2 linked regions of the Homo sapiens genome follow. The protein of the gene in region 2 interacts with the protein of the main gene of each other region in a biochemical or structural test. Each region holds a gene or a part of one and is shown on either strand. Other genes may lie near its edges.

Region 1 (7,797 bases), on a different chromosome or scaffold from region 2:
CCCAGCAGTGGGGACCCGGAGCCAAACACCCTCCCTCCTCTGCCTCGGCCCAAGGCTGGGCGAGACCCCCTGCCAACCACCAAACCCAGCACCAGGCAGAGACCCTCCCCAATTCTGCCCTCCTCCCAGCCCTGGGGATCTTGGGTCAGAATAGCTGTGACCAGGGCATGAAAAGTGGAGGACAGGCGGGGGACCTTCACCCACTGGGCCAAAGCCGTGCGTGGGGAGTGGGGTCCAGACCAGGGCACGTGGTTGTGGCCATGACACAGGCTCCCTGCACTGCAAGGTGGTCAGTCATGCTCTGGAGCAGAGGCTGGGGAACCAGGGCTGGGCTGAGAATGCAGCGGGGGCTGGCGCAGGAACCCCCGACTCACCAGGGCCTCCTCAGCGTCCCCAGCCTGAAGCTCCCTCTCTTATGAAGGCCACCCCAGACCAGCGAGGACCTGCCTTCTCTTCCCCCCATCTCCAACTACATTCGCTTGGCATCCAGGGTCAGTGTCTAGTTCAGCAGTCGCTTAAGCTAAAGTATTACTGACCAACCAGCCCCTCCCACGGGGGTTCTATTCCACAGAACAGACAGTGCTGAGAGGTCTGCGGGTAGAACTCAGGGGAAGGGATGAAGGAAGTAATTGATGAGGGTCCTCCGTAGGCTCCTGAGGCCACCAGCCAGAGGACCAGGGAGGACACAGAGCAAGGCCCCCATCCCAGCCAGAGGACCTGGGAGGCTACAGAGCAAGGCCCTCGTCTTGGACCTCCAGCATCACCCCAGTCCATTCTTTCCAACCCCCACAGCCCAGCCCAGCCCAGCCCTGACCTCTGCAGCCCCACTGACTCCCAGCCCCCTGTAAGTCTGCAGCCTCCAAAGCTGTACACTGAAGCTCCCCTGTCTCTTTCCTGGCCGCATCCCCAAGCCTGCCTCGACACCCAGACCTGCCCACCCTGTTCCCAGGCCCGGGCACCCACGCGTCCTCCAAATGTGCCCAGCAGGTGCAGCCACTGCTAGAAGTGCACTAGGGCAACAGTCAGGCTGTCTCTGCCCTGGGCAGCCCCCGGTGGGTGTCAGGAGCAGAAGGCGGACTCCCCCAGGGCTTCATCCCAGAGCATGGTCCAGGAGCAGAACCTGGGGGCTGGGCACCTCCTCACTACGCATTTCCTGGTGGCACACATTTGCAACAAACAGCATTAGTAACTTTGGTAACTTTCGTTAGAATAATAAACTAAGTCAAAAACAAAAGTACCTGACACATGCCCCATGCTCAAGGCCAAAGCAGCCCAGGCCCAGAGAAGCAGGGACTGCAAGGTGCCCCAGCTGGGGAGGAGCCCGGACCAGACTCAGAAAACAAACCGCCCCCTCCTGCCCAACCTGACCGGAGCGGGCAGGAGGGCCGCTGAGCCGAGTGGGGAGCGCCCAGCCTTCAAAGGCTGCCAAGGACGCACCCTGCCCTCTCTGCTTTGCCTGGTCGTGGGGGTGGGGAAGGAAAGTACAGCTGTCTAGATGTCCCTTGGGCCCCCCTGAGAGCTCCAGAGCGGACCCAGCCTGACTGGACCTGGGGCTGCCTGAGGACCCTGCAACCACAGAATCCAAGAAACAACCTTAATGTCACAATCCCAAGAAGCGGCCACACACAAGGACACCGCTTGCCGGAGGCTCACCTCCTGGGGCCACGAGGCCTGAGCCCGCCCCCAGCACTGTTGAGCTGGGACTAGGGACTCAGGTTACTGGTGGCTGGGCCGGGCCAGGCCAGGCCTCAAGCAGACCGCCAGGCTCCTGCTCCCTGTCCCAGAGGGCCCAGCTCAGCACAGCAGGGGTCTCCTCGCCTGGGACACCACCACCGAGGCCCAGCAGGGAGACGCTGACCCAGGCTGCCCCGAAACAGCAGATGGTCTGGGCTGCTCCGGGAACGCAAGTGCTTTGTGGCTCAGTGGGGACGGGGCCCACAGGAAGCTCAGGACACGGGTAGGCGAATAAAGTTTCATGGTCACCAGTGGCCCTTGACCTCCACCCTGTCACAAGGACCCTGCAGAAGGGGGCCAGGAGAACCTGTCTTGACCCTCGGGAAGCTTCTGCAAACCCTAGCAGACAGGTTGGTGAACCTGTACCCCCATGTCTCCCCATCCCAGCTAGGGAACCCCACCCTGCTTCCTTCCCACTGACACGCCCCTGACCCCAGCCCGCACCAACGGCAGGCGCTCCCGGCCAGCCCCGGTGGAAGCGATGCGGCCGACCGAGTCTGACACGGGCCAAGGCAGGACTCGGGGCCGGGAAGCTGGGGCCAGGGACGCCGGGAACCCCGCCTGCCATCGCCCCGCTCCACGGACAGGTGGGCGCGCGCCGCACACGGGCCGAGGCCGCCACCCGCGCCGCATCTAGCGGAGGCGCGTCGCGGTCGCAGGTCCCCGGGGGCGCGAACGGCTCAGGACCCCCGCCCCGTCCCCGCGCGGGCAGGTGCGACCCCCGAGCCCGCGCCAGGCTCGCGCAGGCCTCGCGGCCGACTGACCCGAAGTCCTGGTCCATGGACTTAAAGAAGAATTTGTAGGCGTGCACGGGCCGGTTGCTGAGCACGTTCTTGAAGTCGGCCAGCGTGACGCGCTCGGGGGCCACGGGCAGCTTGACCAGGTACGGCGTCTCCTCCTCGTCCATGTGGTAGATAATCTTGGTCTCCGCCATGGCGCGGCGGCGGCGCGGAGCCCGCGCGCTCAGGGCCCGGCCCGGGGCTCGGACGCGGGGCGCTACCCGCCCGCCCGCCTGCGCCCCGCCCGGCCCGCACCGCTCTCGGCCCCGACGCTCCGAGGCCCCCGGGCGCCCCCGCCCGACCGCCCAGGCCCCGGCCGCCGCCCCCGGCTCCCGCGCGCGTCCCGACTGCTGCCCCGCGGCCCGCGGCCGCCCATCCGCCCCCGGCCCGGGAGCGGCGCGAGGGACGCAGCACGGAGGGCGCGCTCAGCCCCGCCGCCCTCCCGCCTGCGCCCCTCGGGCCGCGCCGTTAAAGGGACCGCCCGGCCCGGGGTCCTGAGCGTGGCCGCGGGGGGGCGCCCGAGCGCGCGGCGTTGACGTCACGGGGGCGCACGGCGGGGGCGGGGCGAGGATGCGCAGACGCAGGCGATCATCGCTCGCCCCGCCCCGCCCCGGCCCCGCCCCCGCGCGCGGGCCCGCGCTCCATTATGATCCGGCGCATGCGACGCGCGCCGCTGGCTGTGGGCCCGTGGGCGCCGGGGCGCTCGGGTCGGGCGGAGGGACCCCGGGGACGCCGGGTGCGCGGCGCTGAGGTGGCGCCCGGTCGCTCTGCGCCACCGCGAAGGCTCCCGACTCGCGTGCCCTCTGCCGGGTCCCACGGGGTCCAGGCAGCAGGCCGAGCGGATGCGGGGCGCGCGGGGGCGCGGGCGTGCACGGAGGCGTCGGAGCGCCCGGCGGCGGGAGGGATTTAGTCCTGGGGTTCTCCGCAGGGCAGGGGAGACTTCCGAGGCGTCCCTTGAGGCCGCGGGGCGTCCGCGCTTACTGTTCCGGGGCTCGCGGGGCTGGAGGCCTTCCCGACCCGACCCCAGCAGGAAGCGCGGAGGCCACTAGAGGGCGGCCCAGGATGGGAGGAGTGAGGAGGGGGCCTGGACGGGGCAGGAGCGACGGGGGGAGTGAGGAGGGGGCCTGGACGGGGCAGGAGCGACGGGGGGAGTGAGGAGGGGGCCTGGACGGGGCAGGAGCGACGGGGGGAGTGAGGAGGGGGCCTGGACGGGGCAGGAGCGACGGGGGGAGTGAGGAGGGGGCCTGGACGGGGCAGGAGCGACGGGGGGAGTGAGGAGGGGGCCTGGACGGGGCAGGAGCGACGGGGGGAGTGAGGAGGGGGCCTGGACGGGGCAGGAGCGACGGGGGGAGTGAGGAGGGGGCCTGGACGGGGCAGGAGCGACGGGGGGAGTGAGGAGGGGGCCTGGACGGGGCAGGAGCGACGGGGGGAGTGAGGAGGGGGCCTGGACGGGGCTGGAGCGACGGGGGGAGTGAGGAGGGGGCCTGGACCGGGCAGGAGCGACGGGGGGAGTGAGGAGGGGGCCTGGACCGGGCAGGAGCGACGGGGGGAGTGAGGAGGGGGCCTGGACGGGGCAGGAGCGACGGGGGGAGTGAGGAGGGGGCCTGGACGGGGCAGGAGCGACGGGGGGAGTGAGGAGGGGGCCTGGACGGGGCAGGAGCGACGGGGGGAGTGAGGAGGGGGCCTGGACGGGGCAGGAGCGACGGGGGGAGTGAGGAGGGGGCCTGGACGGGGCAGGAGCGACGGGGGGAGTGAGGAGGGGGCCTGGACGGGGCAGGAGCGACGGGGGGAGTGAGGAGGGGGCCTGGACGGGGCAGGAGCGACGGGGGGAGTGAGGAGGGGGCCTGGACGGGGCAGGAGCGACGGGGGGAGTGAGGAGGGGGCCTGGACCGGGCAGGAGCGACGGGGGGAGTGAGGAGGGGGCCTGGACGGGGCAGGAGCGACGGGGGGAGTGAGGAGGGGGCCTGGACGGGGCAGGAGCGACGGGGGGAGTGAGGAGGGGGCCTGGACGGGGCAGGAGCGACGGGGGGAGTGAGGAGGGGGCCTGGACGGGGCAGGAGCGACGGGGGGAGTGAGGAGGGGGCCTGGACCGGGCAGGAGCGACGGGGGGAGTGAGGAGGGGGCCTGGACCGGGCAGGAGCGACGGGGGGAGTGAGGAGGGGGCCTGGACGGGGCAGGAGCGACGGGGGGAGTGAGGAGGGGGCCTGGACGGGGCAGGAGCGACGGGGGGAGTGAGGAGGGGGCCTGGACGGGGCTGGAGCGACGGGGGGAGTGAGGAGGGGGCCTGGACGGGGCAGGAGCGACGGGGGGAGTGAGGAGGGGGCCTGGACGGGGCAGGAGCGACGGGGGGAGTGAGGAGGGGGCCTGGACCGGGCAGGAGCGACGGGGGGAGTGAGGAGGGGGCCTGGACGGGGCAGGAGCGACGGGGGGAGTGAGGAGGGGGCCTGGACGGGGCAGGAGCGACGGGGGGAGTGAGGAGGGGGCCTGGACGGGGCAGGAGCGACGGGGGGAGTGAGGAGGGGGCCTGGACGGGGCTGGAGCGATGGGGAAGAGAGTGCGGTGGGGTCCCTTGGTTCCCGTCCCCAGGAAGCCGGCGAGATGGAACTGGCATCTATCGGGCCCTGACCGTGCTGGGGGCTGCACCGGCTCGGAAAGAAACCGATCAGTGCAGGCACCAGTGCTTGACGGTCAGCTTGGGCCTGGGATCCTGACCCTGCACCCGGGCTCTGAGAGGGAGAACTGTGGCGTTTGCTCAGCCAAGCCCGGACAGCTTAGCCGCCAGCCCCCTCCACCTTCCCGCAGCCCTTCTCTTCCCCAGAGGTCAGAAGCCAGGCAGGAAGACCTAAGAGGGGCTATCTGTTGAGGCCCCAGGGAGGGAGGAAGCCTGTCCCTGCCCTGAGGGCCTGACCCCAGGCTAGGTCTCAAGAGAGGCTGGAAGCCAGAGGCCTGAGGCCAGTCCCGTTGCTGACGCGGATGTGGTCCAGCTGGGGCCCTGACAGGTGTGGCCACTGGTGAGGCCAGAGGTAACCGGGCTGGGAGGGGGGTGCATCTTCAAGCCACACCTCCCCAGACCAGCCTCCCTCCCTCCCCATCCATGCTTGTGTGGGGTCCTTGTGGGCAACTGTCACCCTTTCCCACCCCCACTGTCCTGGGAGGACTGGAGGATGGGGTTGGGTGGTGACGCCAGCTTCAAGAAGCAGCAGTTAGTCGCTGGTCTGTGCTGCCAGGACCCCGGGCCACGGGCCTTCCTGCTCCCGCCACTCCTCCCACCGCCTGAACTTGTGCTGAGATCCTGCACCCAACCAGCTGATGCCTGAGCGGGAAAGGATTCTAGGGCCAGATCCGTGCTGGCCTGGCCAAGACTCTTGGAACCACCCTGCTGTCCCGGGCTGTCTCTGCTGGAGCCTCTTTGCTCCCGCCCCCTTTGCAAGTGTCTGACCCGCATCCCACTACTCCCGCTCCTCGTCCCTCTGCCTCTCCAAGAGCTGTGCTCCCACGGCCTTCCCTCTGGCCTCACAGCCACCACCACGTCCCCCCTCCTCACGTCCAGGTCAGCCCTCAAGGGAATCTGAACTCCTCCACGACCAGAAGCCACACAGAACTAGCTCAAAGGTCCCCTTCCCAGGACACCGACTCCCAGAGGACCCAGACCCAGACCTTTCAGCCCAAGGAATGGGATGATGTCAGGGGTTCCAGGTGGAGACGAGGACTCCCAGGCCCAGACTCATGCCTTGCCCAGCCCCAGGAGACGGAGTTTCAGAAGCATACCTGGGACAAGTCTAAAAATCAGATGGGGACTTTATTGTGATGGTGGCAGGTCCACCAGCAGATGCAAATGTGGGGTGCTGAGAGTGGCAACACAGGCCACCCCAAACCAACTTCACTCCCTCCCCTGTCCTCAGCCAGTACAGAAGCCAAATGTAGCCCCAGCCCTAGACTCCAGCCCAGGCAGAGTCCAAGGGAGGGGTGTCAGGGTCAGAAGTCACAGGGAGCCCAGTGACTATCAAGGTGGCTGAGAGCAAGGCTAGGGTAGGGATGGGGCAGAGAAAGGGCAAGGGGTGCAGCCCCAGGTGGCCCAAAGCAACACAGAGGAGCAAGGGCTGGCATTCAAGTCAGCAGGTCCCTGGGGAGAACAGATGGTGCCTGGAGTCCCACATGGTGGTACAGGTGGGGGAGCTCTCGGTGGCAGGCAGCACCCCAGGAGGAGTGGGACTCCTGCCGAGGCTGACCCCAACTTCAAGGCTGCCAAGTTCTGATGGGAGTGTCCTCCTCCAGGAACATCTCCCAGCCCCCGACGAGCAGAGCCCTGGAGGAGTGGGACTCCTGCCCTGAGGCTGACCCCAGTTTTGGGGCTGCCAGGTTCTGATGGGAGTGTCCTCCAGGAATGTCTTCAGGCCCCCAGCGGGCAGAGCCCAGAAGGGTCTGAGGGCATGATGGGCATCAGTGGGATTTTGGTTGTGCCAGGGGTGGGCAGGGCCACCCGTGAGCAAAGGCCGCAGGGGTGGGGGCTATGCTGCCACCAAGCCCCTGGGAGAGGGGTGTGGAGGCGGCCTCTGCATACGCCCAGGCCAAATTCCAGGAAAGCGGGACCAGCCGCTGGAAGGGGGGTGAGCCCCGGAGCATCAGGAGATGCCCCGAGGAGCACAGACAGGAGAGGTGCAGCTGCTGGCCCAGCCAGGAGCCCAGGGCCTCCCTATTTGCAGTTCTCCTTCCGGAACCCTGGAAGCCAAGGGCGCCAACGGGTTGGCGGCTGTCCTCCACCCTCATCACAGTGGGAGACACAGGGCAGACCCCCCCGCAGGACTCCCCAGGGATTTCTGAGCCTGAGGTGGCAGGGGCCCCGGGCCTGGCTGGTGCCTGCCATCGTTGGTCCCAGGTGAGGTGGAATGGGGACAGGCAGGGCTCTGAGATGGGCTGAGGTCGCCCCCGCCGCTCACCTTTGTCTAGGTCGATGTACTTGGCAGGCAGGGGGCTGTGGGCCAGCTCCGCCCTCTCCTTCAGGATGTTGTTTTTGTAATCTGTGGGAGGAGAGGAGGCTGAGGTCCCCGCTCCCAGGATGCACTTCCCAGCCCGGGACTGGGAGCCGCGCCTGTGCCCTCGTGTCCCAGCACTGCCTCACCTAGCTGGATGTCCTCACTCCTGTAAAGCATCTGGTCCCCTGCAGCCACAGCGAACTCCGCCAAGTTAACATCCTTCCTGGATGGCGAGGGTGGGAGGAGGTTACAGCTGGGTGGGGTGAAGGGGGCCCTGGTCCCCAGGAGGGCCGGGAGGGGGGCACTCACCC
Region 2 (7,021 bases):
CAATGTGACCTTGGCCAGGCCCTTTTATACAAGTACTCCTCAGTTTTATTAATTAGAAGGAACTGATGAGATGCTCTTTTAAATATCCCATCATTTCTAAAGTTTTATGATTATCGATGCTTACTGTAAAAGAAATACAACATACATATTTGAGAAAACATTACAGAGAACAGGGAGGCCCAAACATAGATGGTGCATCTCATCAACATTCTAATATAGAGTAATGATCACTGGCTCTAAACAAACTTTGCAACCAAACAGAAACTTCGTATCTGCTAATCTCACGTTGCTCCCCAAGAAAAATCTAACTGAATGTTCTGGAAAAGTAGTGGAAAAGTTAATTGTTTGCAGAAAGTTAACTTTTACCTGAAGTGACAAAATAAAGTGGTTACCCAAAGGGGTAAAACCTAGCGTTGGAGTTTATCTTATGGGTGTAGTAGATTTGCCTTAAACTCAAAGATTTGTTTTGCTGGGTTAATGGGTGTCCAGTGGATCTTGAGGATGAGAAAGGGAAGGAACTCTGTTCTATGTGTGGGAGCCTCTAACCCCTTAATTTCTACCCAATTAGAGATTTTTACTCAGTTTCATTTTTAGCGTGTACATATCCTTTCTATCATTGCCTTTATTCAAGGATAGTTTCCCTTTAAGATAATCATTAAAAATTTCTTCAGTTTTTAAAATCTTATCATTATATAGTTCACCATTATAAAAACCACAAGAGTCATGTTTTGCAAGATTTTTATAAAAAGACTTTTTACATCAAGATACTTACTGATTCAGACAAGGAACAATCCCTTTTTCTGTTTTAAACTACATATCAAGACTCAGAAAAATCCATAAACTTTCAGGTAACTTGTGTCTCTTTGCAGGCAAACCTAATTAGTGAAGATATTGAAAGTGCAATCAGTGACAGTAAAGGAGGGAAACAGAAGAGGCGGCCCGACGCCCTGAGGTAAAAGCATTGAAAGAAATCAAGGAGTGGAATTGATTTGTTTCTAAGGCTTTTTTCCCCAAAGAGTTAGAAAAATTATTTTCTATGGAAGTATATTATTGTATTGTATAGATCATAACCTGTAGTCTCAACACATTTGTTCTCCCAAGTTTGTCAGTGTGTTTACTCCTCTTCTCTCCATATTTTTGGTCTTTCTCTGATATGGCTTCACTTGTGTTGGAAGTCACAGAGTCATGAAAGATGAGTGGCATTTTAAGAGAAGGTATCCTAGGGAAATACAAGCTAGACAGTAGGATTGTAATTGTTCCATGGCCCTTTCAAATCACATAAGACTCAGAAGGAAAATCAACCTAGTTTTCAGCTGACTATTAATTTTTTTATTTCATATGCATTCATAAATATGCATAATGTGTAATGCTTAGGAAATCCTTATTGTCCCTTGACATAGTTCTTTTTGAATTTTAATAACTAGTACCACAAGTTGAGTTAATTGATATGTTATAGAAATAGAGATGGTAAAAATTCTATTTGTTTTCATCTTTTTAAGGATGATTTCCAATGCAGACCCTAGTATACCGCCTCCACCCAGAGCTCCTGCCCCTGCGCCCCCTGGGACCGTCACCCAGGTGGATGTTAGAAGTCGAGTGGCAGCCTGGTCTGCATGGGCAGCCGACCAAGGGGACTGTGAGTCTTCCTAGAATTAATACTTATTGAACACTTACTTTGGGTTGGGACATAGTTCTTGCTTTCAAATTCTGATGCTGATTTCAGAACTGAAGCTTGAGGTTAGTTTTTAAAAAATCAACTCTGGCCGGGCGCAGTGGCTCATGCCTGTAATCCCAGTGCTTTGGGAGGCCGAGGCGGGCGGATCACCTGAGGTCAGGAGTTTGAGACCAGCATGACCAATATGATGAAACCCCGTCTCTATTAAAAATACAAAAATTAGGTGGGTGTGGTGGCATGCGCCTATAATCCTAGCTACTGGGATGGTTGAGACAGGAGAATCACTTGAACCGGGAGGCGGAGGTTGCAGTAAGCTGAGATCACGCCATTGCACCCCAGCCTGGACAACAAGACCAAAACTCCATTTCAAAAAAAAAAAAAATCAAATCTTAGATAAAATAAAGTTAAGCCTTGAATTTTGTTAAGATTATTATCTGTAAGAGTTTAGACCCACCATTTAATAAATATGGTATTAGGGTTAGAGTCTTTTTATTTTTTTAATGCTAAGAGGAAGTTTTACTTGATTGACAAAAAGATGGCAACAAAATATATACAGGTTTTTCTTAAAGATTGCACTTAACATTCTTTCCATTTTTTATTATCTAACTAGAGTCCCTTTTTGGACAAGTTTGTCATATTCATGGAAAGGTTGTCAGGACAGTGGTTGGCTGCTGGCAGTGGAGAAGGGTAAAAGGTATCCATCATATGACTGTTCTTGTCAAGTGGGCCCTATGAGCGTGGCATCATTTCACCTTGGCATTCTGTTTAAAAACAATTATAACATAGAACTTAGTGTTACTTTTTATATGTTAGAATATTTTACTAGAATCTGAAATGTTTATAACTAAAAAAATGCCTTAAAATATGTTTGGTCTAGTATCTTCATTTTAAGGACGAATAAATTGTGATTCAGCAGGCTCCAATCTGATGAACTCTAGAGCCTCATTCTTTTGCCGCTACTCCAGTGGAACTTCTTAACTTCTTATTCTTTATCCAGTAAAGTATTATTCACACAGGGTATCTGGCACTATAGTTAAACGATATAACTCATTTCCAAAAATGAGTCACCTCGGACTCTACTTTGGATGTGCAGAGTAAAAGTTGGACTCTGAAGCAAGACCTGATATGTCTACCTGTGTGGTCTTGGGAAGTTATCTCTCTGTACTTCGGTCTCATCTCTGAAATGGGGATAATAATTCATGGGTTGCTCTGAATCTGAAAGTAAATAATGTTTATGGTAGTACCTACTACAAAATAGTAAGCATAATTTGTGGTTTTCATTTTGCCAAATTGAGTTCATTTTCTTTCTGAATTGTTTTCTATTTTGTTTAGGTTTCTTGTATTCTTAAAGGTTTTTTCAGAGGTTGAAATGTAAGCCGAGCTACCAAAGATATGAAAAAAAGAATTCTTTGATGCATTTATTTAAAAAAAAATTAATTAACAGAGATATGTAGTTTAATTTTATAACAGTTTCCGTTTTCATAAGTTATGTAAATTTGTATTGATCTGCTTTGTATTTAAAATGTGTTTAAAAGACAGTAATTTATTGTATTCTATACTTTTTGTGTACTTATGGTGTTTTTGTTGTTACTGTTTCGATGAAGAGGGTCTGAAGTAGAGGAAGGATAAGACAAGTTTACAGACATTCTGAACAAACCTGTAAAAATATATGTTGAACCTAATATATATAATATATATTATGTATATTATATGTTGAACCATATATATATGTGTGTGTGTATATATATATATATATATATATATATATTATTTTTTTTTTTTTTTTTTTTTTTTTTGAGATGGAGTGTTGCTCTGTCACCCAGGCTGGAGTGCAGTGGTGCGATCTCAGCTTACTGCAACCTTTGTCTCCTGGTTCAAGCGATTCTCCTGCCTCAGCCTCCCAAGTAGCTGGGATTACAGGCGTGTGCCACCATACCTGGCTAATTTTGTATTTTTAGTAGAGATGGAGTTTCACTGTGTTAGCCAGGATTGTCTTGATCTCCTGACCTCGTGATCCTCCCGCCTCAGCCTCTGAAAGTGCTGGAATTACAGGCGTGAGCCACCATGCCCTGCTGAACCTAATATAATTTATAACAAAGACAGAATTTATCCCTAGGGGTTTCTGAGCTTTCATTAAATTTTATCTGAAATATTTTCTGCAATGTCATCTGTTTAAGTGAGATAAGGCTTTCAGAACTTCTAATTTACCACTAGCCTAAACAGAAGACTTATTATATCAGGTTTGGCCTGGGTCCAGTCCAGTTTTTAGTTGGAAAGCCCCTCAGGAGGAATATCTTTTTGGTTCCTCTGGATGCTCCAGCTGACTCAGGCTGAACTGCTTCTCCGTTGAATCCCTGAGGCATATCTACCCCTGACTTCCAAAGGTGATCTCTGTGGAATAGCGCCAGTGGCACTAGGGTTCCTAGTCGTGTTTCAGACCTGACAGAGCCCAAGAAATACCATATCTCCCCCTCACTGTGCCCTCCAAATGATATTTTTTGGGGCCTCTGTAGAGTTCCTAATAGCTATTTCAACCTCAACTTAGTACTTTCTGTGGTAGTCCACTACAACCAAGGTAGCAGCTATCTATGTGTAAAATAGTAGCTAACTGGCAAGATTTCATAGATAGAAATTTTAATTATCTTAAAGTAGTTAACAGCCGCTAATTAAGTTTCATAAGACACGATGATTTCTTCTTTCTTTTTTTTTTTTTTTTTGTTGGCAAGTGTTCCAGTTACAGGTAAAGTTAGTGTAAAGGAAGAATAGCAATACAAAGTGTCCAATTTTTTTTTGCAGTTCTCTCTATTGAACATCATGAGTCACGATGATGTATCATGAGTTGTATTTCCATTTGTGGTGTTACGTTTCTGTTGTTCCATCCATATATTTTGAAATTTATTCTACCATGAGATATCTGTAACAACTCTCTGTGTTTAGAGGCAGTATTAACTGACTCATACCAGGAAGGAGTTCATGATAATAACTTCATGATTAACATCATGCTGTAGCCAACTGAGCAACCTTAATACCCTGAATGGTCTTAAGACATTTATTTTTTAATGTGAAAATTTCTGTCTGCTTTTAAAGCATGTAGCTTAAAATTAATGAGCCCAACATTGTGGGTTTTAAGCTTAATTACACTAGAATTTTAAGAAGCACTCTGCTGTCAGAACTCCGAAAGCTTTATTGTAGTCACAGTGTTGGAATGTATAAAAATTATAGCTCTGTTGCATTAGAACTTAGTTGACCAGCTTTTGAGAAGTAAAAGCTTGACTGCTGGTTTATATTTCTGGCTTGTGTAGGAATTAAAGGGTGCTAAGTTAAGGTTGGTTCTACAGGTAGCTGACTCAGGGAAGAGAGAGAATGGGGTGATATTACAAGGTAAATTAACATCATAAAGTTGAGAGGACTAATACTTAAGCTCTGCTCAACTGCTCCTGTTAGTATTGACAAGGATGCATTTCATGGCTGATGAGCACAGTTTTGACTTGTGTATCCAGTGGAGGTGTTCCCTTTGGCAAATGGTCCTCCTTTTTAACTAATTTTTATGTTTTAATTGTCTGTATTGGTATTGTGGGAGTAAAAGATTGAAAGACTTATGATTGTCCTTTCTATAGTTGAGAAACCAAGGCAGTATCATGAGCAGGAAGAAACACCTGAGATGATGGCAGCCCGCATTGACAGAGATGTGGTAAGTACAGGAGTCGCCTTTAGATCACTGGCTTTTCTTTTAAGAGGAAAAAGAAAACTTCATAAGAAAATGAAGCTGATTTAAATAGAGATATTTTATGGAAACCATGTTTTCTGTTACCTGTGATGGCTATGCCCTTTGAATTTGCCCTTTGAATTATTTTCTCGTTAAACATTTTTGCCTTTATGCCAATATTTAGTTAGTAGACTTGGGCTATGATAGAAGAATCAGCTTATTAACTAGTTTACATTGGAACTTAGGCTGAATTATTAGATTTCAGGAATGGTACAATTTTTATTTTATTATCGTTTGTAATTCATAATTGAAATATCTTTTTAATATGTCTTCTTGGCATTTATTAACAATGTATTTTAGAATACCTAAGAGATAAAAGTTAAGTGGCATTTTTAAAGGATAGATTTGTAAATCGTAAAGCTTTTATAAAAGATAATGCTACATTTGTTTTCTTTATAGTGATTTACAGAATGAGAATGCTGTAAATGCTTTATTATAGCATTTTCATTCTTTAAATGAGATCTAGAATATGATGTTAATACATTACTTTTTATACCATATACATGTTACCAGCTTATTGAGAAACAAATACTGAAAGGAATTTGAAATTTCTAATTCAATTTTTACAGCACACTATTACATGTTATACTTAAAAGTTTAACCCCAATTTGTAGTCTTAAATTAGAAGAATGTCAAGTTTCACACATACTGGAGAAAGGCAACTAAGACTATAGTATATAAGATAATCAAATTCATTCCAGTGATCTCTGAAAGCATGGTGCATTATTCTATTTTGTCATGTGGAAACTCTTATTAATGCTTAGTATCCTAGACTAGCTATTAGGTTATCACAACAATCTGTATACCTTTAATTCCATGAAGTAATATTGTCAGTGCTTTATTGGGACATTTATCAGTAAAGCAAAAATGTCAGTGCTCTTCTAACAAAACCTATTTTAGAATTTTCCTCCTAACTGTGTGGGAGAACACTGAGAAAATTAGAGTAATTGAAAATAATAATCTGAGCAGATATTGTGAATGCTTCCTTGATGACATTGAAAATAGAGCAAAAGTAAGCTAAAGAAAAATGTAAATGTCAGAATATGGCTATAGGTATATTTAGTTTGATTCTTGTAATTAGTAATAAACTTGAAATTGGCATGTGGGCTGCTTCCTTTTCTAAAAAAACCTTTCTATTATTTACTAACAGAGTACAGCTAAGGTAAAAATAGTTTTGTTTTATATTTTATTCTATAATTTCTAATTTCAGCAAATCTTAAACCACATTTTGGATGACATTGAATTTTTTATCACAAAACTCCAAAAAGCAGCAGAAGCATTTTCTGAGCTTTCTAAAAGGAAGAAAAACAAGAAAGGTAAAAGGAAAGGACCAGGAGGTAAGTTGGATTTTCTTAATCTTCTAATGCCTGGTTAGATCTCCAGTACTGGCTGGGCGCAGTGGCTCACACCTGTAATCCCAGCACTTTGGGAGGCCGAGGCGGGTGTATCATCTAAGGTCAGGAGTTCGAGACTAGCCTGACCAATGTGATGAAACCCCGTCTCTACTAAAAATACAAAAATTAGCCGGGCATGGTGGCATGTGCCTGTAATCCCAGCTACTTGGGAGGCTGAGACAGGAG

Evidence for each region.
Region 1: the proteins of EPS8 (region 2) and DVL1 form a complex in vitro, tested with the Homo sapiens proteins (one study listed by BioGRID).

What each region holds. Positions count from the first base shown.
Region 1 is NC_000001.11:1,346,398-1,354,194, forward strand, and holds the start of DVL1 (segment polarity protein dishevelled homolog DVL-1), read right to left. Parts: upstream 3,022-7,797; 5' UTR 2,669-3,021; coding exon 2,499-2,668; intron 1-2,498. Other genes in the region: MXRA8 (matrix remodeling-associated protein 8 isoform 1 precursor), read right to left, coding at 6,904-6,935, 7,451-7,549, 7,633-7,709, 7,796-7,797. UniProt on the Homo sapiens protein: Participates in Wnt signaling by binding to the cytoplasmic C-terminus of frizzled family members and transducing the Wnt signal to down-stream effectors. Plays a role both in canonical and non-canonical Wnt signaling.
Region 2 is NC_000012.12:15,660,371-15,667,391, reverse strand, and holds part of EPS8 (epidermal growth factor receptor kinase substrate 8), read left to right. Parts: intron 1-869; coding exon 870-952; intron 953-1,499; coding exon 1,500-1,636; intron 1,637-2,285; coding exon of another isoform or gene 2,286-2,287; exon of another isoform or gene 2,288-2,598; intron 2,599-4,585; exon of another isoform or gene 4,586-5,056; intron 5,057-5,292; coding exon 5,293-5,366; intron 5,367-6,651; coding exon 6,652-6,778; intron 6,779-7,021. UniProt on the Homo sapiens protein: Signaling adapter that controls various cellular protrusions by regulating actin cytoskeleton dynamics and architecture. Depending on its association with other signal transducers, can regulate different processes.